3 separate regions of the Homo sapiens genome follow, and all the other regions are linked to region 2. Evidence: fine-mapped expression QTL. A gene starts in region 2. Each other region holds a variant in brackets. All regions are shown on one strand. Distances are between the middles of the regions. Region 1 overlaps EYA3 (EYA transcriptional coactivator and phosphatase 3). Region 2 holds the start of EYA3 (EYA transcriptional coactivator and phosphatase 3). Region 3 overlaps EYA3 (EYA transcriptional coactivator and phosphatase 3).

What was found. PIP is the estimated chance that this variant, and not a neighbour inherited with it, causes the effect.
Region 1: its variant is fine-mapped to the expression of EYA3 in subcutaneous fat (FUSION, PIP 0.91).
Region 3: its variant is fine-mapped to the expression of EYA3 in whole blood (TOPMed, PIP 0.98).

What each region holds. Positions count from the first base shown.
Region 1 is chr1:28,045,073-28,055,281 of GRCh38, reverse strand. EYA3 (EYA transcriptional coactivator and phosphatase 3) reads left to right here. Exons shown (of 18, transcript NM_001990.4): 3 at 6,856-6,899. Among named protein-coding and RNA genes, the nearest start is that of EYA3, 38 kb to the left of the region's middle. The variant T/A (reference allele first, on the strand shown) is at 5,080.
Region 2 is chr1:28,083,562-28,093,770 of GRCh38, reverse strand. It overlaps EYA3 (EYA transcriptional coactivator and phosphatase 3), which reads left to right and starts at 5,161. Exons shown (of 18, transcript NM_001990.4): 1 at 5,161-5,247. RefSeq lists enhancers at 5,222-5,291, 5,502-5,561.
Region 3 is chr1:28,004,039-28,014,247 of GRCh38, reverse strand. It overlaps EYA3 (EYA transcriptional coactivator and phosphatase 3), which reads left to right. Exons shown (of 18, transcript NM_001990.4): 9 at 954-1,137; 10 at 3,162-3,301; 11 at 9,829-9,912. Among named protein-coding and RNA genes, the nearest start is that of XKR8, 49 kb to the right of the region's middle. The variant A/G (reference allele first, on the strand shown) is at 6,078.

The DNA.
Region 1 (10,209 bases), 38 kb after region 2:
CAGCCTCTACTTGGAGAATAGAGTATAAAGAACAGCAGTGGATTGAGAATAAGAAATACCTCACACTACAGTTTACACACTGAGAGTCCCTGAAGAAGTAACATCATCACCCTTTGATACCTTAATTAAAAATCTTAGTCTTTCCAGCTTTCCGTCATATACTTTACCTATTTATAGCCTAAATCTTTTAAGCTATCAATAAAGATGTTGAGTGTTCTTAGAGAAAATATATAATAGCTCCAGGTGATTGTCATATCCTTTCTAGGTGTCTACAAAGGTCTGTTCAGTAATCTGTTTTAGAACACTGTCATCAATCAGCATTAAGTTAGCACTAGTTTATAGTTTCCAGCATCTAATTCCTCTCTACCATCACCTTTAAATTAAAACAAACAAACAAACCAAGTAGTGAAACATTTCTTTTTGTTTTGTTTGAGACAGGGTTTCACCCTGTCGCCCAGGCTGTAGTGCAGTGGTGCCATCTTGGCTTACTGCAGCCTCCGCCTCCCAGGCTGAAGCAATGCTCCCACCTCAGCCTCCCAAGTAGCTGAGACTACCAGCACACCCAACTAATTTTTTTGTATTTTCAGTAGACACGGGGTTTTGCCCTGTTACCCAGGCTGGTCTCGAACTCCTGGGCTCAAGCAGGTCCCCCACCTTGTCCTCATTTCTTTATATTCTGTTTCAAGCACCTCTCTTATTCTCTGTGATTTTTCAGAGATGATAAACACTGGTTTAGCAATCATGTTTGTTAAGTTACAGGTCTATGGGATAAAGCTTCTGTGAATCTGGAGGGTTAGAACTTATTTAAAATAATTGAGGTGCTTGCTTATAAATATGGGAATAAACTCTTTTTGAAAAATTTAGGTATGCTATTGTTTACATTTTGTAGATTACTCTTCTTGATAGAGAAGACAAAAAGATTTTTTTGCCTCCATCAGAAGTCACACCTAACATGCAGTGGTAGAACAGGAAGTTGTCTCTGCCATAAATATTTACCTCTCTAATAATTTGGAATGCTTACCTCCCTCTCTAGGTCCTGCTTTCCTTATGTTAAGTTCTTGAAGTCAAATTAATAATTAGATAGCTATTAGTAAGCACAGTCAATGAAAATGGCATTAAATTGTTTTTTGTGTGAAATTTCATCTAGGTTATGATCAAACCCTTTACCCCTCTAGCATATGGAATATGACTTTTTAGTAAACAGAACAGTGTCCTTCTGTTTGTTGGACAGTGTTGGATAAATCTTGACATAAACATCCTTTTTATAGTCTCCATGACGACTTTTACCCTACCATTATATTTATTATTGCCAAGATTACAATTTACCTAGCACTAGCATGCTTTTGCCTCTTGTTTAAACCTTCATAGCCATTACTTGTAAGTCATCACAGAGTAATTTCAGAATGACATTTGAGATGCTTAATACAATTTTCTTAACTAGAGAGTCCTGTTTCTTAAGCCTGTCTTGAAATTTCTGGGATTCAACTTTGTTCTTGCTGTCTATGGTAATAACACTAAAATTTAACAATTACATAGCGCTTTGTTTTTCATAAGCAGTTCACTCTTTTCCTGTTTAAATTTCATCTTTACATATTATGTTAACAGTGCACATCCTTAAGTTTATTCAGCCAGCATCCTTGTACTGTTAATGCTGCTGTTTCCTGCTGTTGAAACATGAGCCCTATGAAGTAGGTAGTTGTATCTTCTTTTTTACAGGTGAAGAAACAGATACAGAAAAGACACGCAGTGAATTAACTCTCAGAACTTAGCCTTGAGCCTGGATATTCTGAATTTGTATACTGGGTTTTTTGTTTCCTTGCTGTGTTATATTTAAAGTGTGATTATACATTGTAGCAGAAGCAAAAATAGAATGCTGATTTATGAATTTGTCAGTGCTTCTTTCTTTTTGTGTTATCATTAGCCATTATATGCCCATAGGATTATGTCATTTTTTAAGATACCAGCTTTATTGACATGTAATTTACATATCCTACAATTCACCCTTTTAGCGTATACAGTGCAGTAGTTTTTAGTCTATTCTAAAATGGTTTTGTAACCATTACCAGAATAAATTTTAAGGCATCTTCCTTTTTTCTTTTTCTGTTTTTTTTTTTTTTTTTTTTTTTTTGAGACGGGGTCTCATTTTGTCACCCAGACTGGAGTACAGTGGCACAATCGTGGCTCACTGCATCCTTGAACTCCTGGGCTCAAACAATCCTCCCATCTCACCCTCCTGAGTACCTAGGATTACAGGTGTGAGCCACCACACCCAATTGTTTTTTAAATTTTTTGTCGAGATGGGGTCTTACTCTGTTGCCCAGCTGGTCTCAGACTCCTGACCTTAAGCAATCCTCACTCTGTTGCCCAGGCTGGAGTGCAGTGTCACTATCTCGGCTCACTGCAACCTCCACCTCCCGGGTTCAGGTAGTTCCCTGCCTCAGCCTCCCAAGTAGCTGGGATTACAGGCGCCTGCCACCACACCTGGCTAATTTTTGTATTTTTAGTAGAGATGGGGTTTCACCATCTTGGCCAGGCTGGTCTTGAACTCCTGACCTCGTGATCCACCTGCCTCAGCCTCCCAAAGTGTTGGGATTACAGGTGTGAGCCACTGCCTCCGGCCTATATTTTTACAAGTGATGAGAGCATACATATTCTCCTAAGAGTTTTATAGCTTTAGCTTTTACATTTAGTGCTTTGATCCATTTTCAGTTAATTTTTGCATATGGCTTGAGGTACGAGTTCAGCTTTATTTGTTGAAAAGACTATTCTTCCTTCGTTGAATCATCGTGGCACTTTTGCTGAAAATAATTTGACTGTAAATGTGGTACCCTTCTTGAAAATCAGTTGACCCAACAAATGTAGAGGTCTATTTCAGGACTCTCAATTCTGTTCCAGTGATCCATATATCCATCCTTATGCCAGTACCACACGGTCTTGATTACTCTAGCTTTATAGTAAGTTTTGAAATTGAAAAATGGGGCTGGGCGCAGTGGCTCATGCCTGTAATCCCAGCAATTTGGGAGGCCGAGGTGGGCAGATCACCTGAGATCTGAGACCAGCCTGGCCAACATGGTGAAACCCCATCTCCGTTAAACATACAAAAAAATTAGCCAGGCATGGTGGCACGCACCTGTAGTCCCAGCTACTCGGGAGGCCAAGGCGTGAGAAATGCTTGAACCCAGGAGGTGGAGGTTGCAGTGAGCCGAGATCGCACCACTGCACTCCAGCCAGGGTGACAGAGTGAGCCTCTGTCTTAAAAAATAAAAATAAAAAAGAAATGGAAAAATGTGAGTCCTCTAACTTTGTTCTTTTTTTTTTTTTTCAAGATTGTTTTAGCTATTCTGGGTCACTTTCATTTCCATATGAAATTTAAGATCAATTTGTGAATTTCTTTAATGCAGCCAGCTGGGATTTTGATTGGATTGACTGTAGACCAATTTGGGGAGTATTACCATCTTTACAAGATGAATTCTTCTTTCCCTGGATATGGGGTGTCTTTGCATTTATTTAGCTCTTCTTAAATTTCTTTTAACGTGTATTGTACTTCTTCTTCTGTTAGGTTTATTCCTAAGTTTTTTTGTTTGTTTGTTTGTTTTAGACAGAGTCTTGCCTTGTCACCCAGGCTGGAGTGCAGTGGTGCAATCTCAGCTTACTGCGACCTCCACCTCCCAGGTTCAGACGATTCTCCTGCCTCAGCCTCCTGAGTAGCTGAGATTATAGGCGTGCACCACCACACACAGCTAATTTTTGTATTTTAGTAGAGATGGGGTTTCACCATGTTGGCCAGCCTGGTCTCGGACTCCTGACCTCAGGTGATCCACCTGCCTTGGCCTCCCAAAGTGCTGGGATTAGAAGCGTGAGCCACTGGACCCGGCCATATTCCTAAGTATTTTATTCCTTTTGATGCTATTGTGAATGGATTTTTTTTTTCATTTTTGAATTGTTCACTGCAAGTATATAGAAATATAATTGATTTTTGTATGTTTGTCTTGTATTTTGCTGCCTTGCTGAACTTGTTTATCAGTTCTAGTGGTTTCTTAATGGATTCGTTAGGATTTCTGTATACAAAATTATGTCATGCAAAAAGAGATTCTGATTTTTTCACTTTTAACCCTAACGGAGCTTTTTCAGCTTTATTGCTTTCTTACTTCCTGGCAGCTTGTATTACTGTCCTACTACTGTCCTGGTATGGCCCCAATTCCTTGGATACCAGCTGCTTGTATAATCTATACTGGTTTTGTTAATGAAAATTGTTCTCTGTAGGACTGGTTGCTACTTGAATCTTTGCTCACTTTGCTGTGTAGTTTTCAGTATTCATTATTGCAAGTACTATGTTACTCTGTAAACTCTCCAGAAAATTGTTGCTCAATCTTTGCTATTTCTCTTAACAACCAGGAATCATTTTCTGTCAGTTTCTAGCTTGTATTGTTTGAACTGATACTTCTATAATTGAGTAAAATCTGTCTGTCTTCTTTAGTTAATTTACCTGCCTCTACTGCCTAGTTAGTACATGCTTCCTATCCCTGCCTTAGAGGGGGGCATAATTGCTCAAATCAAGACAAACAATGGGCCATATGAGGTTAAAAACAAAACAAAACAAAAAAAACATTGTAACACCCTTTCCTTCCCCAGACTTTTCTGCTTGGTAGATATGACTTTAGATACATTTTCTCCCTTTCTATTTATGAATATATACTCTGCACTGGGTTGGCACGGTAATAAATTAAAAATGAAGGAGCGTAAAGAAGCATAATTCTTCCTTGAAAGTAAATAAATTTTTGGCCAGGCGCAGTGGCTCACGCCTGTAATCCCAGCACTTTGGGAGACCAAGGTGGACGGATCACTTGAGGCCAGGAGTTCGAAACCATCCTGGCCAATGTGGTGAAACCCGGTCTCTCCTAAAAATAGAAAAAATAGCAAAATTAGCTGGGCATGGTGGTGTGCACCTGTGGTCCCTGCTACTCGAGAGGCTGAGGCACAAGAACTGCTTGAACCCGGGAGACAGAGGTTTCAGTGAGCCGAGATTACGCCATGGCACTCCAGCCTGGGTGACAGAACAAGACCCTGTCTCAAAAAAAA[T/A]AATAATAATAATAATAATAATAATAAATAAAAAGTAAATTTAAAAATGTTGCTCCAGGACCTTTTTTTTAAATCCTTTTTTCTTTTGGAGTTGATTAACTAAATTTGTTGCTCTATACCTCTAATAAAATGAAGACTATGATAAGTTAGACTCCTCAGTGCTCTAATTTTCTTTGTTTAAATTACTGTTTGAAGAGTATAGACTGTTTTGGTTACTCAGCCAACCAGCTCGTAATTACATTTCTTTGATAGCAAAGAGTCTTTGGATGAGCTAAGCATAAATTCATCTCCACTATTGGAAGAATATATTATTATCTGACCATATGTAACTACTATCATCTTTAGGTAGGAAGGGCAGAACATTTTATAAAAAAAGGCTATATTTTGTCATTTGTGAAATTATGGCAGGCAGATAAACTAGATAGTTGAATTTTTCTTGTCTTTAGCCTTATAGTTTCCAGGCAAAACACTGTTTTCCTATATTATCTAGGTCAGATCATATTTCCCTCACCTCTTTCAGTGAGATAGTCGTATACATTGGTAATACAGTTAGATTTTTTTGTCACAGTCTGCATACTATCCTGGAATCCCTCAACCTCCTGGTTGTTTTATGGTGTCTTTTATCATATAGAAGTTTAAAATTTTTGTGTAATCATATCTATTTTCTCCTTTATGGCTTTTGGATTTAATGTCATGCTTAATCAGGATTTGCCCACCTCAAGGTTTCGTTTTTTGTTTTTGCTTCAAATGCTTTAATGTAATTTTTGTTTCAAATTTAGAAATGTTTTTTTAAATTGCCTTTGTTTCTTTATTTTCTCCTTTTTGGTAACTATGAAAATTAAGAGAACATTGAATGGAACACATTTTGACATGCCATAAGCAAGGAACCAAGAATGTCTGGTCATGGTTGTGTATTCTCATGAGGAGTATATGGCCACGACAAATTTTATGGGGCTTGCCTGTATTATTTACCTTGTCTGAAATAGTCAATGTAATATTAAATATCTATGATTCCACCTGATACGCTTGCTTCAAATTATCTAGGAGAGTTTCTGCCTTCTTCTATTAGCTTGAAATACTTTTAAATATTCATAATTTGAATGGCTAAGCATATTAGACATGTTTCTACTACAACCAGTTCTAACCAGAGAGTTCTAAAATCAGATTCTCTGTAATATGAAAACAGAAAAATCCATTAGTATTAACCATTATCTTTCATTTGTGGATTCTTACACTGTTTCAATGGAAGTGCCTTCTCCCCAGAAGGAAATAGAAAATGTGAAATATGAAAAGAAAAAATACAGGGTTAACAATATTTTCTAAATTACTGGTAACCTGATAAGAATTCATATTAATTTTTGACACTAAACTAACTTAAGTATAAAGCCATTTTTGTTAAATAAATGAGTAGATGATACTTAGATTCCCATCTTTACTGTTTGTTTAAATATAATTTGCCTGTTACAGTATAAAACCAACTAGTTTGTATCAAAGCTTGGATACTTTATCCTAGTAAACATTCTGTCTACCTTGAGTAAAAATTCTGGTAAACAGTTTTTTTTTAATCAGAAGAACACTTTTTTCATTAAAAAGAAGAGCTCCATTTAAAAAACAAACTTCATTTCTAGCTCTAAAATATAACAAGGGTTAATTAAATCTAGACTAAACAAAATTAAACAGTTATCCTGTAATAGTTAATAGCCTGTTGTTTGAGTAGCTAAATGATTTAAAAAACAGATCAAGTACATTGATACCTTTGTATATTTATTTTTGCAGGTGAAAAAAGCCAAGATGCAGGAATCAGGAGAGCAAACTATAAGGTATGTAAAGTTTGCTTTCTTTTTAATGAACTACTCATAAGTTTTGTTTTTTTTTTTCACATGCTGATTAGCGTATGGGCATGCTTTGCCCTCTTTTTGGTTCTTACCATCAGCTGTTACATTTTGAAATTATTTGGTTTAAGATTAAAATTTCCTTTCCAAATAGTTTTTTCCTGAAACTTGTGCACTGATTTGTTCTTATGCATTCATTATTTATTCAACAATATGTACCAAACTCATGTTGTATATCAGGCACTGTGCTACATAGAGGAGACTTAATGGTAAAGATGAAAAGCACCATATTCTTCAGTCAGACGTACAATATACAGAATAGGAAGCATAAGCGAAATAAATAAAATCCAAGAGATTTGGTATTAATTACCAAATGGTTATGAAATGACTTAGTCATTAACCCCACTCCTCTTATAGAAAAGAGGAAGCTTGCGCCTGGCACGGTCGCTCACGCCTGTAATCCCAGCACTTTGGGAGGCTGAGGCGGGCAGATCACGAGGTCAGGAGATCGAGACCATCCTGGCTAACACGGTGAAACCCCGTCTCTACTAAAAATACAAAATTATTAACCGGGCGTGTTGGCGGGCGCCTGTGGTCCCAGCTACTCAGGAGGCTGAGGCAGGAGAATGGTGTGAACCTGGGAGGTGGAGCTTGCGGTGAGCTGAGATCGCGCCACTGCACTCCAGCCTGGGCGACAGAGCGAGACTCTGTCTCAAAAAAAAAAAAAAAAAGAGAAAAGAGGCAGCTTGTTTGCACCTCACAGTTTGGCTTCTTCATACCATGGTTTTCAGTTTTCCACAGTTCTTACCTTCTGTCGTTTGTGCACCAACCATATGAGCCAGTAACTGCATCACCTCTACCACATTAATTTCAAGAATCCTACACTTTTACCTCCACACACTATCATCCCGGCTCATTTATTCTAGAACTGCCATGCTAGCCATATGATGTCTTAAACTATCAATTAAATCATCTGTCATCTTTTCACCATCACCCCTTAAAAAGAACTTTAGTTTCTTCCTTATAAGAGACCAACATGGCGGAACCTTGTTTCTACTAAAAACACAAAAATTAGCTCGGCGTGGTGACTTGAGCCTATAATCCCAGCTACTTGGGAGACTGAGGCAGGAGAATGGCTTGAACCCACGAGGCGGAGGTTACAGTGAGCCAAGAATGCGCCACTGCACTCCAGCCTGGGCGACAAAGACTCTGTCTCAAAAAAAAAAAGGAACTTAACTGGCCAGGTGTGGTGGCTCCACTTTTGGAGGTCCAGGTGGGCAGATCGCTTGAGTTCAGTAGTTTGAGACCAGCCTGGGCGACATAGCAAGATGCTGTCTCTATAAAAAACACAAAAACAATTATCCAGGAATGGTGGTGCACACCTTTAGTCCCAGCTACTCGGGGCTGAGGCAGGAGGATTGCTTGAGCCCAGGGGCCAGAAGTTGTGGTGAGCCAAGATTGCGCCACTGAACTCCATCCTGGGTTGGTGGCAGAGCAAGATGCTGTCTCATTTAAAAAAAAAAAAAGAAAGAAAAATAAACTTAACTATAAGATCTACTGTAATTAGTCCCTTACAAACATTCTTAACTTCCTCACTTTTTTCTGTCATACTTGCCTAGCAAAACCACAACCCTGATTAAACCCAACTATCCACCTATTCTGTACTTATTCCCAATCACTTGTACATCGTGAGAGAAAAACACAAAATTGTGCTAACTGTTCCTAGTTTCTATTCATGATAAGATCTAAAACAGGCACTTAGTCCCCCTTCCTGGTATGTCTGATTTCCCAGCCTCTAAAATCATCTTAATTCCTTTATTCCCTCCCTCCTTGCCCCCTACCTTCTCCCTTTTCCCTCCCTTTCCTGCTATTTCCATTCACTCAGCTGTGGATCTTGCTCCCTAGTTCAAAGAGAGATTAGGAACATCTCCCTTCTCTCACCAAATCAACCTACTTAATCTGCTTCTCTTGGATATTGTTTATCTTTCCTCTGAAATTCCCTTGCTCTTATCGAAGGCTAACCTCTCCAGTTGTTTGAAAGAACCCATCACCTTCATCTTTTCCTGCAATTATCTCTTCTTTTACCTTCAGCAATTTTTTTACTATGATAAAATACACACAATATACAATTTACCATTTTAAGTGTACAGTTTAGTGGCACTAAGTACAATCACTTTGTCTTGCAACCATCACTACCATTCATCTCTAGAACTTTATTCATCTTTCCAAACTGAAATTCCATGTTCACTAAACAATATTCTCCACTCCCCCATCTCCAGCTCCTGGCAACCACCATTCTACTTTCTGTCTGCATGATTGTGACTGCTCTAAGTACCTCACAGAAATGGAGTCATACAGTATTTGTCCTTTTGTGATTCATCATGATGTCTTTAAGGTCTATCCATTTGTAGCATGTGTCAGAATTTCCTCTTTTTAAGGCTCAATAATACTCCATTGTATGTCTGTTCCGCATTTTCTTTATCCATTCATCTGTTGTTTGTGTTGTTAATAGTTCTGTTGAATGAGAAGGAGGTATTTGTTGTGCCACTTTATGGACTTGGATGTTGTTGGGTTTTTTTGGTCATTTTATTTTAGAGCAGTTGTTTTTTCATGGTGTATTCATTGTTAAGCAAAATTTATGTTTATATAACTTTGAAAATAATTATATTTTGAGGCAGTATGTCATTTCTCTAAGGATAATAATTTAAATATTTAACAAGTGCTAGAGTTAACTCACTGTCTTGGTGCTGTTGTTTCTATTTATTCTCTAGATGCTCAGTTGAGTATGTAGGGGATGTTGCTATAACATAATATTCTAGGACCATTGGGTTTTAGGAACTGGTCCAGTGGATACTGGATCATAGCAATATCACCAACTTCTAAAATATAAGATCTACAAATAGTCTTCAACAGTGGGTATAACAGTGAACCTCATACTTAACCAGGTACATGTAGAAGTCAAACTAGTTATTGATGTCAGGAAAATTCTGGTTCAGTTTTATGCCCTTCCCCTGGTAATTCTATGTAAGTAGGTGTGAGATGGGGTCCAGAAGTCTATTTTTATTAACTATTCAGGTAATTATAATAAATCACCCAGTTTGGGAAACTGACACAACTATTCCATATAATTTCTTGCCCTTACCCTTCAATTTCCATAATCACATCTTAGTACATTAAGTTCTATTACAAAAATATAAACATTTGAGTAACAAGATAAAAATGAACCTTACTTGGGGATTTAGCTTTAAAATTAATTACAAATGAGGAAAAATTATTTGAACATTCAAAATATACCATT
Region 2 (10,209 bases):
AGTTTGAACAAAACTGTGAAAAAGACTTTAGTAATCTCCATGCAGGGTCAAGTAGGCAAAAGTGACCCATGTCTTTTTTACAGTGATGACTAGATTCCTACAGATTTTAAACATTATTAATCTATTTATTTGTGGTAAAAACACATATCATAAAATTTACCAACTTAACCATTTTTAATTATACAGTTTAGTAGTGTTAAGTATATTTGCTTTCTATGAAACAGATCTCAACCTTTTCATCTTGGAGAACTGAAACTCTATACTCATTAAAGAAACTCCCTTTTGTCCTTTCTCCCCAACCCTTTATATCCACCATTCTACTTTCCATATCTATGAATTTGACTAATTTATATAACTCATATCAGTGGAATCATATGGTATTTGTCCTTTTGTGAGTGGCTTATTTCATTTAGCATAATGTCCTCAAGATTTATTCATGTTGTAGCATGTGTACATGCTCTTTTTTTTTTTGGTGGAGTCTTGCTCTGTCACCAGGCTGGAGTGCAATGGTGTGATCCCAGCTCACTGCAACCTCCGCCTCCTGGGTTCAATCGATTCTCCTACCTCAGCCTCCTGAGTAGCTGGGACTACAGGCGCACACCACCATGCCCAGCTAATTTTTGTATTTTTAATAGAAACAAGGTTTCACCATGTTGGCCAGGATGGTCTCGATCTCTTGACCTCGTGATCCACCCGCCTCAGCATCCCAAAGTGCTGGGATTACAGGCATGAGCCACTGCACCCAGACAGAATTTCCTGCCTTTTTAAGGTTGCATAGTATTCCATTGTATGTATACCAAATTTGTTTATACATTCATCCATCAATGAACATTTGGGTTGCTTCCATCTCTTAGCTATTGTGAATAGTGCTGTCATGAACATGGGTGTGCAAATATCTCTTGGAGATCCTGCTTTCAATTCTTAGGGATATATACCCAGAAGGGGATTCCTGGATCATACGTTAGTTCTATTTTCAATTTTTTTCAGGAACCACCATATGGCTTTCCATAAGGTTGCACCATTTTACAATCCTACCAACTACTGATTGCTTTTAGAAGGTCAACGATCATGTATATCATAAGAAATTGCCTCAAGTACAATATAGAACATCAACAGAAATAAAATCCAGACCATTGTACTTCATATATGTCAATCAGGAGGGTTTAAATTAATAGCTATTATAAAACACTGATCATACATTCATCATGTCTTTTCAAAATGGAAATATATAAATTAGAGGTCTTATTTTTATTATTTTATTTTATTTTATATATTTGTTTATTTTTCGAGATGGAGTCTCTCACTCTGTCACCCAGGCTGGAGTGCAGTGGTGCCATCTCGGCTTACTGCACGCTCTGCCTCCTGTGATTCTCATGCCTCAGCCTGCTAAGTAGCTGGGACTACAGGTGCCTGCCACCACACCTGGCTAATTTTTGTATGTTTTGTAGAGATGAGGTTTCACCATATTGGCCAGGCTGATCTTGAACTCCTGACCTCAGGTGATCTGCCTGCCTCGGCCTCCCAAAGTGCTAGGATTACAGATGGGAGCCACCGTGCCCGGCCTTTGGATTTTATTATTATTATTATTATTATTATTATTATTATTTTTGAGACAGAGTCTCACTCTGTAGCTCAGGCTGGAGTGCAGTGGCACGATCTCAGCTCACTGCAACCTCCGTCTCCCAGGTCCTGGTTCAAGCAATTCTCTTGCCTCAGCCTCTCGAGAAGCTGGGATTACAGGCACATGCCACCATGCCCAGCTAATTTTTGTATTTTTAGTAGAGACGGGGTTTCACCATGTTGGCCAGGATGGTCTCGATCTCTTGACATCATGATCCACCTGCCTCGGCCTCCCAAAGTGCTGGGATTATAGGCGTGAGCCACCACGCCCAGCCTGGATTTTATTCTTAAATGACTGTAAAGACACTAGAGCACCAGCAAGGTACAGCTTCTGCTCTGGGGAGGAATTTGCATGCTTTCTTGTAGCTCTGTTTTAGAATCATAGCTGTCACATAATGATATTTTGGTAAATGATAGAATGCATATATGATGGTGGTCCCATAAGATTATTTAATATTTTTACTGTACCTTTTCTATGTTTTTATATGTTTAAATACACAAATACTTGCCATTGTGTTACAATTGCCTACAGTATTCAGTACAGTCATATGCTATACAGATTTATAGCCTAGGAGCAATAGGTTATACCATATAGCTTAGGTGTGTATAAGTCCATTTTACGATGTTCGCACAATGATGAAACTACCTAACGAGGGATTTCTCAGAACATATTCCTGTCCTTAAACAGAGTGTATATGTATGTAAATGCTTTAGGCATAACTTTTCTGGAGCTATTGCATTGATTACTCATGGGCTCCCTCTGGTGGAGGTGGTGGCTCAGTTTGCAGGGTTTCAGATCAGGAAAACCAAAGTAAATGAGCAATTTAGCCCTTCATTCAACAAACATTTACTGAGTGCCTACAGTGTGCCAGGCTCCATTCTGGTGCTGAAAAAACATCCGTGAACAAATCGGACAAACATCCATGGACTCATGGAACTTACATTCTGGCAGGGGGAGAGAGACACTAAGCCAAATTTACAAGCAACTTGTTGGATGGGAAAGTACAAAGAGGATGGTAGTGTTCCAATTTTTAATGTAGTGTCAGGGAAGATCTCATTGAGAAAGTGACATGTGAATAAAGATGTAAATGAGGTGAGCGGATGAATGATGCAGGTATCTGGGGGAAGAGCACTCCAGGCAGATGGATTAAAAAGCACAAAGGCCCTGGGCCTACCTGTAGTTTTGAGGAATGGCAGAGGCCAATGTGCTTTAAGGGGAAGGATGACAGAAGGAGTAGGAGTTGAGGTTAGAGCAGAGCTGTACTGGAGGTGTCAAATCTTGAGGGTCCTGTAGACCAATGTAAGGATTTTGGTTTTTACTCTGAAATAGGAATGCATTGGAGGAAGGATATGATCTAATTAGGGTTTTAACAGGAGCCCATTGCTACTATATTAATAGATTGTGGGGGCCGGGCGTGGAGGCTCACACCTGTAATCCCAGCACTTTGGGAGGCTGAGGCGGGTGGATCACTTGAGGCCAGGAGTTCAAGACCAGTCTGGCCAACATGGCAAAACCCCGTCTCTACTAAAAATATAACAATTAGCCGCGCGTGCTGGCGGGCCCCTGTAATCCCAGCTATTCAGGAGGCTGAGGCAGGAGAACCCAGGAGGCAGAGGTTGCACTGAGCCAAGATCAGGCCAGTACACTCCAGCCTGGGTGACAGAGGGAGGCTCTGTCTGAAAAAAAAAAAAAAAAAAAGATTGTGGGAAGGCAAGAGTATAAATAGGGCACTCACAGTCACTGACTGACTGGTTTATACCAACGGAGGCAGTAAATGGTCAGGTTCTGGACAGATTTTGAAGGCAAATCTTGCAGAACTTGCTGATGGAGTACATGTGGGATATGAGAGAGGAGTTAAGGATCTTAGTAAATGATGTTGCTTAGTACATTGTTGTCATCGGAAGAGGTGATCAAATATACAGTCAAAAAATGTAGAAAAAATAGTTTTTTTTCTGGATTTTGTTATTCGTGGTATTTGTGAGCTAATAAAAATGTTTGTAATTTTTCTCATTATAAAAGGTTCACTTTTATATCTAATATTGTATTTGTAATTTTGGATTTTTTTTTTTTTTAGACAGTCTCGCTCTGTTGCCCAGGCTGGAGTGCAGTGGCATAATCATAACTCACCGCAGCCTCTACCTCCTGGGCTCAGTTAGGTGCGTGCCACCACACCTGGCTAATTTTTCTGGGTTTTTTTTGTTGTTGTTTTGCTTTGTTTGTTTTGTAGAGACAGGGTCTAATTTTGTTGCCCAGGTGATCTCCAACTCCGGGGCTCAAGCAACCGGTCGACCTCGGCGTCCCAAAGTGCTAGGATTTCAGGCATGAGCCACTGTGCCTGGCCTTGATTATTTTAAAGAGGGCCCCCAAATTGAATAAACGTCAAGTCTCCACAAAGCCTGAATTCAACCTTGCTTCTAGCCCATACTTGGGTTGTAATTTAAAATTAACGAAACATTTAAGAATTTTGCTTCCGAAAACAGTGTGCACGAAGTGAATTGTAAGCCTAATATAATATTAAGAATAAACTAAATTTGGGGATAAAAAGATCACCTTGGGGCTCACGCCTGTAATCCCAGCACTTTGGGAGGCCAAGGGATCAACCGAGCTCCAGAGTTGGAGACCAGCCTGGGCAACATGGCGAAACCCCGTCTCTACCGAAAAATACAAAAATTAGCCGGGCGTGGTGGTGCGCGCCGGTAGTCTTAGCTACTCGGGAGGCTGAGGTGGGAGGATCACTTGAACCCAGGAGGCGGGGGTTGCAGTGAGCCGAGATCGCGCCACTGCACTCCAGCCTGGGCGACAGAGCAAGACTCTGTCTCAAAAAAAGAAAAAAAAAAAGGGATGGGCGCGGTGGCTCACGCCTGTAATCTCAGCACTTTGGGAGGCCCAGGCGGGCGGATCACCTGAGGTCGGGAGTTCAAGACCAGCCTGACCAACATGGAGAAACCCCGTCTCTACTAAAACTACAAAATTAGCCGGGCGTGGTGGCACATGCCTGTAATCCCAGCTACTCGAAAGGCTGAGGCAGGAGGATCGCTTGAACCCGGGAGGCGGAGGTTGCAGTGAGCCGAGATCGCGCCATTGCACTCCAGCCTGGGCAACAAGAGCGAAACTCCGTCTCAAAAAAAAAAAAAAAAAAAGATCACCTTGGGCTAGCCTCCCAAATGTCTTCCAAAACTTCCCACTCATTCTCCTTCCCAGTTTTTCTAAATCTACCAAATGCACCCAACACTTCTTACGTTCCTTTTAGCCAGGTAGGGATTACGCGCATTTTTAAAGACCTCCTTAAAAGTGAAGGCTGTAGTACCGTCAGGACTGCCTAGCGCTCACCCAGAAGCTGCTTGTCTCCGAGGCACTAAGAGGGGCGTGGCCATGGGCGTGGCTCGCCGGGCCGGCGGAGTGGGCGGAGCCTAAAAGCTTCCCCGCCCGGTCAGACTCAACACATGCGCCCAGAGGTTTCTAGTGGAACGAGGTGTGGATTGTGAGGTGACTCTGGCCGCTTACTTCCGGTTCCTAGCGATGCGCATCCGGGTCACGCTAACGCCGCGGTTTCCTCCGCTCGATTGGTTCTACTGTGGGTCTGGACTGATCTCCATGTCCTGTTGTGGGGCTTTTACAGCCTTTGGGTGAGTCTCAGCTGCCAACAGGGTCTGAGCGCAGCCGGGCGAGCACAGCGTGAAGGGGGATGGGTCTAGAGTTCTGCCTCGGTCCTTGTGGGTGGGAGTCTCTTCGCCTGTCCCTTGTCACTGCAGTGCTTCACTCACCTCAGCCCTTTCCTTCACGCTGGCCTCGCCTTATTCACCTCAGCTTAGCCTTCTCGCGCTTCCGTGCCTCTGTCGCCTCGCTGTTTTTCCTCAGCCTCATCAGTCCTTTTCCAACCTCGGTTTCTTGCCTTACGCCTCAGCGCTTCTCTCAGCCACTGCCTCTCCTTTTTTCTCCTCCTCCCTTCTTTTAGAACCTCTTTTCCCCTACCCCTGATCTGGGATCTCAGCGTTCTTTCACCTAGCGAGACGGCCCAGCTTCTCATTGTGCTCACTCTTCACCACGAGAAACTGAGCCTCTCCCTAGGGTCCTAGTTCCTTGTCCCCCAACTTTCTTCAGCTTTGATCCTTCCTCCTGGGACCAGTAGGTGACAGTGCTTCTCCTGGGGTTCTTCTGCCTGTCCTTAGCTAGAGGAGAGCTTTGCCAAAGCCCCGAAATGGGAAGACTTCCCCAGCCTGGGGGAAGTTTTGCCTTAAGGCGCCGGGTTAGACTGAACTCTGGTAGCTTCCATAGTTAGGGTACAACAAAGGCGTTCCTAGTTCTTCGCTTTACCTCAGTTTTGGGGCTCTCTCAAGAGCAGCTAACAGGTGGCAGGCACACGGTACTGCTAGCAGTTGGGCTGGCGCGATCTTGTTAATTGACAAGTCATGAAGAAGTTCTGTCAGTTTTGTGTTCCCATGAGAATGGATGTGCACAGCTGAGGCAAAAACGCCAATATTTTGGGACGTTCAGCTCTGTTTTCGGCATGGACGCTTCTTACAGGACACTTGTGATGATAGAGGACAGAATTTGTGGAGAGATCATTAGCCCCAGATTTATGAATTTATTGTGTTGTTTCCGAAAAGTGGTCTGCTGAAGAGTTCACTATAGTAATTTCAAAGTAATCTTTAAACTTAGTATGCACATATGCATTTTTTCATTTTTACTGTATTAAGTTTTCTATTTGTCTTCCTCTTCCTTCATTAGCCAGACTTTACTTAGAATTACATTACTTAGAAGTACATTACTTAGAATATTCTTCTAACTTTTGTATTTTTTTTTCCTTACCATTTCCACCTTTGTAGTAAAACTATCATTTTCTCATTTTGAGATTTAGGGCACCTTTCTTAAATTTCCCTAGAGGTTTAAAGTCATTTATAACATGAAGGAATTGCATTTAATAATGGTTAGTGCTCCCTTTCCCAAATTTTGTGATCTAGAGTATAGGCTTGGGTAATCTTTATTTTTTCCCGATGTTTATAGTGTATATCTAGCACTTGATTGCAGCGGTTTTTGTGTCATCAGTTTCTGTAATCTATAAATTGTGCTTTAAAATGTAGTACTTCAGTATGAACTTAAATACAGCTTTGAGCACCTGCTTATCTTTTGGCTAATTAGCTATAGAAAAATCTTCATTATATGATACATATACATATAAGAGTGTATAGTCCTTGGCTTATTCCAAAATTGGGCTCTCTTCAGCTGTTTTTAGCAAAGGACTTTGGAGCTTGGCCATGTTAGTCCTAGAAGCCACGGAGAAGGACCCTTCTGATTGGCTTTCAGGACTTATCTAACTGCTAAGTGAAGCCTCTTTGAAAGTTTCTTATGTGTACCTCCTCCCCACTACCTAGCTCTAGCTTCTGTCCAACCTGGCCTATTTTCCATCCTTCAAAACAAACCCCAATGTGTATGGCTTACTCCAGCTGCTTCCTTACCTTCAGGTTTGTGGGCTTCATTTAAGCCATGGGAATGCCAGCTTAATTAATGCAGATTAAGATAAGAACATTAAACCCCAAAAATGATGGGAAATCACTCTGTCTTCAAAACAATAGAAAATAATAAAATCTAGTTATAAAGATTATATACCATTGTCACTAGTAAGAAGTGGCACTCTTATTTACAAAACATAAAGAAATTAGGGTTTAGGTCTGGCATGGTGGTTCACACCTATAATCCCCAGCACTTTGGAAGGCCAAGGCCAGAGGATTGGCCAGGAGTTCGAGACCAACCTGGGCAACATAGACAAAATTAGCTTGGTGTAGTGGTGTGCGCCTGTAGTCCCAACTACTCAGGAGGTTGAGGTTGGAGGATTGCTTGAGCCCAAGATTTTGAGGTTACAGTGAGCTGTGATCACATCACTGCGCTCCACAAGGCAACAGAGTGAGACTCTCTTAAAAAAAAAAAAGAAATTACAACTTAAACAGTTAATTTCCAAGGTCATTTTTTTTTAAGTCAAGAAGTCCTATACATGCTCTCAAGAGTAGCGAGTGTTAATTCCATTAAAGCTGTAGGCTGGAAAGCACAATATAGTATTTAGTGGGTCATTTCAGTATATGTCATATATGAATGAGACTATTAGGATAAGAAATCTGTGACATGGATTTTAAAATCCAAAGCCGAAGTCATTTTGCCTTCAAAGAGTGACTAGAGAAAGAAACTGTTTTGTGCAGAAGTAGAAGTTGAAAAGTTTTAGGAGTCTTTTGTTCTTCTAAAATGACTTTGGCCTGTATATTCTGCATTGAAGCCATTAAATGAAATGAGCATCCTGTGTAGTCATTGGAGCAGTTGTGTTCCATGCTGCTGATCTTCAAGCCTGACCCTCCACCTAGCTGCCAAACCAAAACAAACAAACAAACAAACAAACAAACCCAGAGACAGCTTAATGTGTGTTTGTTTTTAAAGCTCAGGAAAAAAAATTACCGTTGATTTTCTACAAAAATTTCTACTTTAGTTGGTAGCCCTAAGGGCTCAATTTAAAATATGTTTCTGCATATTAGTTTTAGGCTTACCAAGTTTTCTTATTTTGGTTTGGTTTGATTATTTTTGGTTCTTTTTTGTCATTTTATTTGCTAATGTACTTTGTCTTACTTGTTTTGTTTGTTTGTTTTTTGGTCCTTGAATCCTGTGTTTACGGAGATGTAGTTTTTTGTTTGTTTGTTTGTTTTTTTGAGACAAAAAACAAAACAAAACCTTGCTCTGTTGGCCAGGCTGTAGTGCAGTGGCACGATCTCGGCTCACTGCAGCCCTGACCTCCTGGGCTGAAGTCATCCTCCCACAGCCTCCAGAATAGCTGGGACTACAGGTTCATGCCACCATACCTGGCTAATTTTGAAATTTTTTTGGAGAGGCAGAGTTTCACCATGTTGCCCAGGCTGATCTCAAACTCCTGGACTCAAGCAATCTGCCTGCCTCGGGCTCTCAAAGTGCTGAGATTAAAGGTGTGAGCCACCACCCACAGGCGGCTGATGTAGTTTTGAAAATTTAAGAAACAAAGTATACCTCCAACAAGTCCTTGTCACTTGTACCTTGTAGCATTATGGTTTCTGTGCTGTGCCTAAGCTGTTTCATGACTTCATTTATTTTGTTTTGATTATAAATAAAAGCCTCATGGAACTTCTTTTTAGGTAGCGGTTTGTCCAAAAGATATTTCTGTTCTGCATGTAACAACAGGATACTTTAGCTCATGTATGATTTAAATGGAGGAAGAATAGTTCAAAATAGAAATGTGTATTTTAAAATATTAGGAATAGTCAGCACTTTGGGAGGCCAAGGCAGGCAGATTGCCTGAGTTCAGGAGTTGGAGAACAGCCTGGGCAACACGGTGAAACCCCATCTCTACTAAAATACAAAAAATTAGCTGGGCGTGGCGGCGTATGCCTGTAGTCCCAGCTACTCGGGAGACTGAGGCAGGAGAATTGCTTGAACCAGGGAGGCGGAGGTTGCAGTGAGCTGAGATCGTGCTACTGCACTCCACCCTAGGCGACAGAGCGAGACTCATCTCAAAAAAAAAAAAAAAAAAAAAAAAAAAAAAAATATATATATATATATATATATATATATATATATATATATTTTGGAATAGTCAATGCTTCCCAGATGTTCATCTAATTGGTTTATACCAAAAGGTTGAATTGTTATATTGATAGTAAGGTGGAAAATAGGTGGACTTTCTGTTTTCTAATTAACTTAAAAATACAAGTGCATATTCTTTTACAAAGTGTATGGCTTAAGCTCTAAACTACCCTGTTGATACTGGTATCTTTTACTGTCAGATAACATAGCAAATAATGGAACATATCATCCTTGATATTTTTATTTAGTTCCATCAACCTAAGTTCCAGGGTAGCTAATTATTAAATGTAGAAGTAATTTAGGCATTTTCTCTGTTCTTTATAGTAGTATATTTAAAAACAGCCATTTAAAATATGGGCTTCCTAAAATTTGTCTTTGCTGTTTTCCCATTTAAGTATGCAATAGTATTTTGAATCAGAAAAGGAATGTGTAGTTTAAATAGTGCCAACTTACTGTAAATAAGTTAACAGATCAGCCCAAGGCAGTCAGTGCTTAATATCGTGAAGATCTTACTACAGATTGTTTTGGATGCACTTTAACTTATTAGCTGTGGTTAATGTTTGTAGCAGTTAGATGGTTTTCATTTTCTTCCCTAGAAAATAATTAGCAATACTCTTTGTAATACATTTATTTCAGCAAATATTGTTTAGGCACCTACTGTGTACAGTTACAGTAATACATATTTAGGCTATTTATGTGGCTAGGTAATATTGTACCAGGCTGATATGTACACTTAAATTCTGAATTTGATCTTATTTGTACATTTCTGAATTAAACGTAAGACAACATAATTAGAATTAAATAAACTTAATTAACATAAAATCATGTTCTTTCGTTATAGATACAATCAAATAATTTTCACTTGGGAAACTTTCACAACTGAACCATGAAACTCTGTAGTGGTAAAACAGTAAAAATAAAAGTGAACTTTATACAGCACTTACTATGTACCAGGAACTATTTTAAGTAGTTTACATGTATTAACTCTTTAATCT
Region 3 (10,209 bases), 80 kb after region 2:
AGAAGGTCTCACTATTTTGGCTAGGCTGGTCTCAAACTCCTGAGCTCATGCGATCCTCCCACCTCGTCCTCCCAAAGTGCTGGGATTACAGGCGTAAGCCACTGTTCCCGGCCAGGAAACTATTTTTAAAGAAAACTTGATTGTTTTAGGTAGATAATCAGGTTGTTTTTTGTTTGTTTTGTTTTGAGACAGGGTCTCGCTTTGTCACCCAGGCTGGAGTGCAGTGATGCAATCTCGGCTCACTGCAACCTCCGCTTTCCAGGTTCAAGCGATTCTTGTGCCTTAGCCTCCCAAGTAGCTGGGATTTCAGGCATGTGCCACCACGCCAGGCTAATTTTTGTATTTTTAGTAGAAACAGGGTTTCACCATGTTGGTCAGGCTGGTCTTGAACTCCTGACCTCAAGTGATCCACCCATCTTGGCCTTCCAAAGTGCTGAGATTACAGGCATGAGCCACTGCACCCAGCTGATAATCAGTTTTTAAATTAAGACATTTTAATGTAGGATATGTGCTTTTTTTGTTTGCTTAAGTTTAAGTTTTGTTTTGTTGTCCTTAGAAGTGCTATTATCTAGTGCAACAGTTTGTAAACCTCTTAGAGTAGAATCTTTCCCTCAAATTCTGTGCAGAAATTCGGTACATAAAACTGGGGGAAGAGGCTGTTAGAGTACAAAAAGGGACACCATGTGTATGTTTATGAGAGTACAGAAGACCCTTCCCTCTCAGCATTTCCTCATTCCAAGACTGCTCCTGGGACATCTCTTGACTTAGGTTTCCACAGAATGCATTTTGAAAATCATTGATTTAGATTGGAGACTTTTAGGTAGGTAAATGAGAAGTCAAATTAATGTTTTAGAAAAATAATTATGAATAAGAAAGAGGGAGAAGAAAGCCTCTTGTGTTGAGATTAATGTATGCTATAAGAGTCTTGTTTTCTTATTTCCTTTGGCCTGCAGGATTATCCCACCTATACTATTCTTGGTCAGAATCAGTACCAGGCCTGCTACCCCAGCTCCAGCTTTGGAGTCACAGGTCAGACTAACAGTGATGCAGAGAGCACCACATTAGCAGCAACCACATACCAGTCGGAGAAGCCTAGTGTCATGGCGCCTGCACCTGCAGCACAGAGACTTTCCTCTGGTAAGCACCGCAGCTCTGAAAACTTTGGCTTAAGGTCACTTCATCCAACAGTTGTTTTTAGGCAATGGTAAGGATGATTTTGTTCTGTCTTAAGTCATTGTTACCATGCTTTTGGCTTTCCCTCTGAGGTGAGGAGTATTGGAAGCAGGCTGTGAGTCATTGGTAGGCTGAATGTATACCTGATGCTGAGAACGGAACAGAAAAGTATCAAGAACTAAAAGACTCTTTCTGACTCGTACTCTACCCTCCCTGTAGCTTTAACCCACTTGCCACAGGGAGCTTCAGCATGTTATAATATTTTGTAAAAGTTGGAGGACTCCAGTTTTAGTCTTGCGCAGGTTTTGAACTGCTGCTAAGGCCTCAGAGCCATAGTTCTTTCTATGTCCAGGATCCCTTTAAGATTCTGAGGAAAGCATGGTCCTTTTCCCTCAGAGAAATATATACAATTTAACCTACAATTTCAGTATGCTCACAGCTCTGAAGTGTATCAATGAATTACAGTGTCCAACTTAAAAACCTTTGACATAAAAGATTAGACACACATTTAATAAACATATATATACACACACTTTTTATTTATATTTAATGAAAATTTGGTAGTTGGCTTTCACATCATGTGGTTCGAGGAAAGCACTGTTTATCATTGGCACTGATGCATGTTTAGAAACAGTACTATATAACAAGTGAACAGTTTTCTGTGCGGTCACCCTACCAGTCTAATAAGTGGACATACAAATGGTCGCCACTTCAAACTTACATAAATTTGAAATAATTACAAGTGTTGATTAAAAACTAAGGTTTTAAAGTCATTTTTCTAAATATCTTTGTTATAACAATTTTAACTTTTGAATATTGGAGAATTTCAAACATAGAGAAAAGTTGCAAGGCTAGTGTGATGAACACTTACATATCCATCATTCATCTTCAACAGTTATCAACTTATAGACAATTTTGTTTCAGCTATACATCATCTAGCTCCCTCCCCAGATTCCAGGCATTGTTCTCTAAAAGATAAGTATGGTACTTATTAACATAACCACAATGGCATTATCCCATCTTTAAAAGTTCAATATTAATAATGTCTTAATTTTGTATTATCAAGTACCAAAATGTATTTGTATTTCCAGCTTTCTCATAAATGTTATGAGTTTTGTTTCCCTTTTGTTTAAAGTAGGATCCAACCCATTCCACAGTGTATACATATTTCAAAACAACATAAAGCATATACAGTTTTTATCGCATTAGTAAATAGAAATAATAAATAAATAGAAAATTTGAGGAGGGAAAATTAGGATCCAAATATAAGGTCCATAAATTGTGATTGGTAATTATGGGTATTTTGTGTTTCATCTCTATTTTAACCTATAAATCCTCCCGTCTCTTTTTCTCCCCCTTGTAGTTTGTTTGTTGAAGAAACTGGAGTGTTGATCCCATACTGTTTCCCAGTCTGAATTTTGACAGTTATATCCTCATAAGGTGGTTTAACATGTCCTGCTGCCTTCTGTATTTTATAGTAAATTGGTGAATGAACAGTTGTTTTCAACTGTTGGCAATGTATGGAAACATTTTTGGTTGTTACACTAGGTGGGGCGGTGCTTCTGGCATCTAGTGGGTAGATGCTAAGGATACTGCTTAACCAAACATCCTATAATGCACAAGACATCCCCCCACAACAAATAATTATCTGATCCAAAATGTCAGTTGTGCCAGGTTGAGAAACTCTAATCTACAAGTTTGACCATGAAGATTCAGGTTCAGCTTTTTCTTGGCAAAACAACTTCATTGATATTTTCTTCTATCATGGGGTAAGCATATAAAGTCTGGTTATAACTTTTCTGATGTTAGCCAGTGCTGATGCTCAATGCCTAGATGTACACTTCATAATTGCTTACATAAGGTTTAGCTTTCCAACCTTTATCCCTGCATTATGACTCACAAGGGCAGAGAGTCCACTAACCCTCTTCCTGCCCTGATTCTTATAGCCTGTGACTCCTGACAACATATGTTTCACTTTTTCTTTCCAGGAGACCCTTCTACAAGTCCATCTTTGTCCCAGACTACACCAAGTAAAGATACTGATGATCAGTCCAGGAAAAACATGACTAGCAAGAACCGGGGCAAGAGGAAAGCTGATGCCACTTCTTCCCAAGACAGTGAATTAGAAGTATGAGAAGAAACTGATTTAGTTACCTACTTTGTTCTTTCTCACTTCTTAAGTTTATCAAACATGTTTTTGAAGCTCACAGAGATAATGTGCACTATGTTATGTGCCCTTTAATTCCTGAGCAAAATAAACTAAATTGGCCACGTTAAAAGAAAAATGTAAAAAGAACAAATTATTCTGTATATTCCAGAAGAGAACAGAAACAATTCATCATATTCAGAAAGCAGAGGGAGTTACAAGTAAAGTCATACTGTTCTCTATTTAAAATTTTAAAAGGGTCAGGTGCGGTGGCTTACATCTGTAATCCCAGCACTTTGGGAGGCTGAAGCGGGAGGATCGCTTGAGACCAGCCTAGGCAACATAGTGAGACCCCCATCTCTAAAAATATATATATACAAGAATTAGCTGCACACCTGTAGTCCCACCTACTTGGGAGGCTGAGATGGGAGGATCACTTGAGCCTGGCAGGTTGAGGCTGCAGTGAGCTATGATCGGGCCACTGCACTCCAGCCAGGGCAACAGAGTGAGACTCTGTCTCAAAAAGAAAAGAAATTTAAAAGGAAAGGACTAGAGTGCTTTTAGCCAAGTTTCTGTAAGGCGCAAACAGATCTGGTAACTTATTAATGAGACTGGTGCTGATTTATTCTGTAGTGTAAGTACTATATGAGTTTATTATGGACATACATTTGACTTCATCATTAAAGACATAAAGGTCATGCAGAGTGCTAAAATTAGTGGAGTTTTTGTATTATCTTTTTGTTTTCTGTTTTCCGTTTTTCTATAGTGCTATTATGTACTGAGGGGAAAATACATATTTAACTATGAATCCATTGATAAGTGCTCTTAAGACATAGGTGAACTGAGCCTGTATTTGAAGCCTTTTCTCTTTTTTCAGAGGTTTGGAGTGAAGAAGAAAGAAAGAAAAAGTAAATTTCTGATATATTTCTTAGGAAAAACTGATAACTCATTTTTTAATTGTCTAAAATATACATAAAATTTACCATTTTAGCCATTTTTAAGTGTACAATTTAGTGTCATTATACATTCTCAATATTGTCTAACCATCACCACTGTATATTTCTAGAACTTTTTCATGATTCCAAATGAAAACTCTGTACCCATTAAGCAGTAACTCCCCATTCTCCCCTTCTTCTAACCTCTGGTAACCTCTATTCTACTTTCTGTCTTTGACTTCTTATTCTAGATATCTCATATAAGTGGAATCACAGAAAATGTATCCTTTTGTGCCAGACTTATTTCATTTACCATAATGGTTTTTTGTTGTTGTTGTTGTTGTTGTTGTTGTTTTGAGATGGAGTCTCAGGCTGGAGTGCAGTGGCACGATCTCGGCTTACCGTGACCTCTGCCTCCCGGGTTCAAGTGATTCTCCTGCCTCAGCCTCCAGAGTAGCTGGGATTATAGGTGCACACCACCATGCCTGGCTAATTTTTGTATTTTTAGTAGAGACAGGGTTTCAACATGTTGGTCAGTCTGTTCTTAAACTCCTGACCTCGTGATCCGCCTGCCTCGGCCTCCCATAGTGCTGGGATTACAGACGTGAGCCACCATGCCCTGCCTACCATAATGTTTTTAAGGTTCATCCATGTTGTAGCACATACCAGAATTTCATTCCTTTTTATGTCTGAATATTTTATTATATGTATATACCACATTTTGTTTATCCATTCATCTGTTGATGGACACTTGGGGTTTGTCACCTTTGTGCTATTGTGAGTAATGCTGCTTTGACCATTGGTGTACAATTATCTATCTGAGTTCATCTTATCAATTCTTTTTGGTATATATGTAGGAGTGGAATTGCTGGATGCTATTGTAATTCTGTGCTCCACTTTTTGAGAAACCACCAAACTATTTTTCATTGTGGCTGCACGGTTTTATACTCTTACCAGCGATACATAAAGGTTCCAGTTTGTTCACATCCTCGCCAACACTTGTTATTTCCCATTTTTTTGATAATAGCTATTCTAATGGATGTGAAGTGGTATCTTATTGTGGCTTTGATTTGCATTTCCCTAGTGCAGTGGCACAATCTCGGCTCATTGCAACCTCTGCCTCCCAGGTTCAAGCAATTCTTGTGCCTCAGCCTCCTGAGTAGCTGGGATTACAGGCACATGCCACCACGCCTGGTTAATTTTTGTATTTTTAGTAGAGACGGGGTTTCACCATGTTGGCCAGGCTGGTCTTGAACTGCTGACCTCAGGTGATCCACCCACCTCAGCCTCCCAAAGTGCTGGGATTACAAGCATGAGAACCTTTGCCCACTTTTAAACTGGGTTGTTTGGTTTTTCATTGTTGAGTTGTAGGAGTTCTTTGTATATTCTATATTAATATTCTAGAATATTCTAGATTATTAATCCCTTATATTAATCAGATATATAATCTTCAAATATTTTCTCCCATTCTGTAGGTCGTCTTTTCACTCTCTCAATTTTTGTGCTTTGAAGCACAAAAATTTTTAATGTTTAGGAAGTCTGATTTCTATTATTGCTGTGCTTTTGGTCTAATACTTGTTGTTTCTTTTTGTTTTGTTTTGTTTTCTTGGTGTAATACTTAATACACGGTTATGAAGATTTTTATGTATTTTTTCTGAGATTTTCATCGTTTAGCTCTTAAATTTAGGCTGTTCTCCATTTTGAGTTAGTTTTGTATATGGTGTAAGATAATGGTCTAACTTTATTATTTTGCATATGGATATCCAGTTTTCCCAGCACTATTTGTTGAAAAGACGTTCCTTATTGAATGGTTTTGGCATCCT[A/G]TTAAAAATTAACTTATGATGTTGGCTGTAGGTTAAATACTAAAAGAAGGTAAAAAACTAAACTAAAAAAAGAAAAAGAAAAATTGATCATATTTGTAAGGCTTTATTTTTAGACTCTCGGTTTATTTCATTCGTCTCTATGTCTATCCTTATGCTAGTACCACACTGTTTTGGTTACTGTAAGTTTTGAAATCAGGAAGTGTGAATCCTTCAACTTTGTTCTATTTCAAGACAGTTTTGGCTATTTGGGGTTCCTTGAGATTCATAAGAATTTTAGAATGCAATTTTCTATTTTTTTAAAAAACTACTATTGGATTTTGATAGGGATTGCGTTGAATTTGTAGGTTGGTTTGGGTAGTATTGTCTTCTTTACAATATTAAGTCTTCTAATCCATGAACATGGATGTCTTTCCGTTTATTTAGCTATGCCTACTTGGTTAAATTTATTCCTAAGTATTTTCTTTTTGATGCTATCACAAAAGGTTTTTAAATTTCCTTTTCAAATTATTCATTGCAAGTATATAGAAATACAGCTGATTGGCCGGGCGCAGTGGCTCAGTCTGTAATCCCAGCACTTTGGGAGGCTGAGGTGGGCAGATCACAAGGTCAGGAGTTCAAGACCGGCCTGACCAACATGGTGAAACCCCGTCTCTACTAAAAATACAAAAATTAGACGGGCATGGTGGCAGGCGCCTGTAACCCCAGCTACTCGGGAGGCTAAGGCAAGAGAACTGCTTCAACCTGGGAGGCGGAGGTTGCAGTGAGCCGAGATCGTACCACTGCACTCCAGCCTGGGTGACAGAGCAAGACTGTCTCGGAAAAAAAAAAAAAAAGAAAGAAAGAAAGAAATACAGCTGATATCTGAATTTATTTATTAGCTTTAACAATTTTCTCTGGGTTATTTAAGGTTTTCTACATATAAGATCACATCGGCCAGGGACAGTGGCTCACGCCTCTAATCCCAGCACTTTGTGGGCAGATCACCTGAGGTCAGGAATTTGAGACCAGCCTGGTCAACGTGGCAAAACCCTGTCTCTACTGAAAGTACAAAAATAAAAAAAAATTAGCCGGACCTGGTGGTGCACACCTGTAATCCCAGCTACTTGGGAGGCTGAGGCAGGAGAATCGCTTGAACCTAGGAGGTGGAGGTTGCAGTGAGCCCAGATTGCACCACTACACTTCAGCCTGGGTGACAGAGCGACACTCTTTCTCAAAAAAAAAAAAAAAAAAAAAAAAGATTATGTCATCTGCAAACAGATAATTTTGCTTCTTCCTTTCCAAATTGGATGTCTTTTTCCCCTTTCTTGCCAAATCTCTCTGGCTAGAACTTCCAGTACTATGTTGAATAGAAGTGGCAAAAACAGACATCCTTGTCTCAGGAGTAAAACTTTCAGTCTTTCACCACTAGGTGTGGTACTAGTTATGGATTTATTTTTATTTTTATTTATTTTTTATTTATTTTTTGGAGATGGAGTCATGCTCTGTCACCCAGTCTGGAGTGCAGTGGCATGATCTCAGCTCACTGCAACCTCCGCTTCCCAGGTTCAAGCGATTCTCCTGCCTCGGACTCCTGAGTAGCTGGGATTACAGGCGCGTGCCACCACACCCGGTTAATTTTTTGTGTTTTTAGTAGAGATGGGGTTTCACCATGTTAGCGAGGATGGTCTCTATCTCCTGACCTTGTGATCCACCTGCTTCAGTCTCTCAAAGTGCTGGGATTGCAGGCGTGAGCCACCGCGCCCGGCTAGTTATGGATTTTTTATATATGGCCTTTATCATATTGATAACATTCCCTTCTATCCCTCATTTATTGAAAAAATAATAAACTAGGAATAGAAAGGGTGTTGAATGTTGTCAAATGCATTTTCTGCATCAGTTGAGATTATCATGTAGCTTTTTCCCCCTCTGTTCTATTAATGTGATGCATTACTTTGCATAATTTTTTTTTCCAATAAGCCTTTTGCACTCCTAATTAATTTTTTAATGTTGAATGAACCATCCTTACATCCTTATGTTCTGAGAACTAATCTCACTTGGTTATGATGTTTAATTCTTTTTTTTTTTTTGAGACAGAACCTCTCTCTGTTGCCCACACTGGAGTGCAGTGGCACAATCTCAGCTCACTGCAACCTCTGCCTCCTGGGTTCAAGTGATTCTCCTGCCTCAGCCTCCCAAGTAGCTGGGACTACAAGTGTGCACCACCACACCCAGCTAATTTTTGTATTTTTAGTAGAGACGAGGTTTCACCAGGTTGGCCAGGCTGGTCTCGAACTCCTGACCTCAGGTGATCCTCCTGCCTTGGCCTCACAAAGTGCTGGAATTATAGGCATGAGCCACCATGCCCGGCCATGATGTTTAATTCTTTTAATATGCTGCTGAATTTGGTTTACCTCTATTTTGTTTAGTTTTATAGATGTGTGGTTTTTTGGGGGTTTTTTGTTTTTTGGGTTTTTTTTGAGACAGGTTCTCACTTCGTTGCCCAGACTGGAGTGCAGTGGTGTGGTCCCTGCACACTGCATCCTTGACTTCCCACGCCCAAGTGATCCTCCCGCCTCAGCCTCCCAAGTAGCTGGGACTACCGGCATGCACCACCGGAACTGGGTAATTTTTGTGTTTTTTTGTAGAGACGGTGTTTTGCCATGTTGTCCAGGCTGGTCTCAAACTCCTGGGCTCAAGCGATCTGCCTGCTTCAGGCTCTCACAGTGCTAGGTTTACAGGTGTGAGCCACTGTGCCTGGCCTGTTGAGTATTTTTATATTGATTTTCACAAGAGATGTTGGTCTGTAGTTTTCTTACAGTGCCTTAGTCTGACTTTGGTATCAGGATAATGCCTCATTGCATTAGTCAGGAAGTATTCCCTCCTCTTCCTTTTTTTGTAAGAGTTTAAGGAGGATTCGTGTTAATTCTGTAAATGTTTGGAAGAACTCACCATTAAAACCATCTTGTCTTGGGCTTTTCTTTGTTGGGATGTTTTTAATTATGCATTCAATCTCCTTACTCTAGTTATAGCTCTTACCGGATTTTGTATTCCTTCTTGAGACAGTTTTGGTACTTTATGCTATGTATTTCTAGGAATTTGACCATTTCACCTGGGTTATCCAATCTCTTGGTATACAACTGTGCATAGTATTCTCTTGTAATCCTTATTTCTATAAAACTGGTAGTGATGTCCCCACTTTCATTTCTGATTTTAGTCATTTGAATCTTCTTTTTTTTCCCTTAGTCAATTTAGCCAAAGGTTGTGAATTTTATAGATATTTTCAAAGAACCAACTTTTTGTTTCATTGATTTTTCTCTGTTGTTTTTGTAGTCTCTCTTCTATTTATCTCTGCTCTAGCCATTGTTATTTCCTTCCTACTGCTAGCTTTATGTTTATTTTGCTGTTTTTCTAGTTTCTTAAGATATGCAATTAGGTCATAGATTTGGGATCATTTGTCTTTTTTAATGTATGTATAAAATACATATATATATGTAAAATGTAATACATATATATAAAATAAGCTATAATTTTTCCTCTTAGCACTGCTTTCACTGTATTCCACAAATTTAATGTTTTATTTCTGTTTTCATTCAACTCAAGGTATATTCTGATTTCACTTATGATTTCTTCTTTGACGCATTGGTTGTTTAGGATTGTATTGTTTAATTCCTACATATTTATGAATTTCCCAGTTCTCTTTCTGTTATTGATTTCTGGTTTCATTCCATTGTAATTGGAAAATATACTCATTTTTTATATTTTCTTTCCTCAGCGGGTATTTCTGTGGGACTTGGATGAAACCATCATCATCTTCCACTCACTTCTTACTGGATCCTATGCCCAGAAATATGGAAAGGTAATTTGAGTCTTCTTTGTTGTAACTGTCCCTCTTCTGACTATATAGTCAGTCCCTCTTCTGACACATAACAAATTATTTCTCTGCTACCCCTGTTGGCTGGCTTTTCACTTTCCATGTAAAACTTCAACAAATGGCTTGCAAATGGCTTGTATTAGGCAGGCTACATGGTCAGGCAGAATTGATGGTAAAGTGGTAAAGTTAGAAACTACTAGAACCAATGCTGAAAGCTGAAGTTGTAGGAGAATGGCATTTTGTGAAGATTAAAGTATAGAAATGAGGCTCAAAATAGAGCAG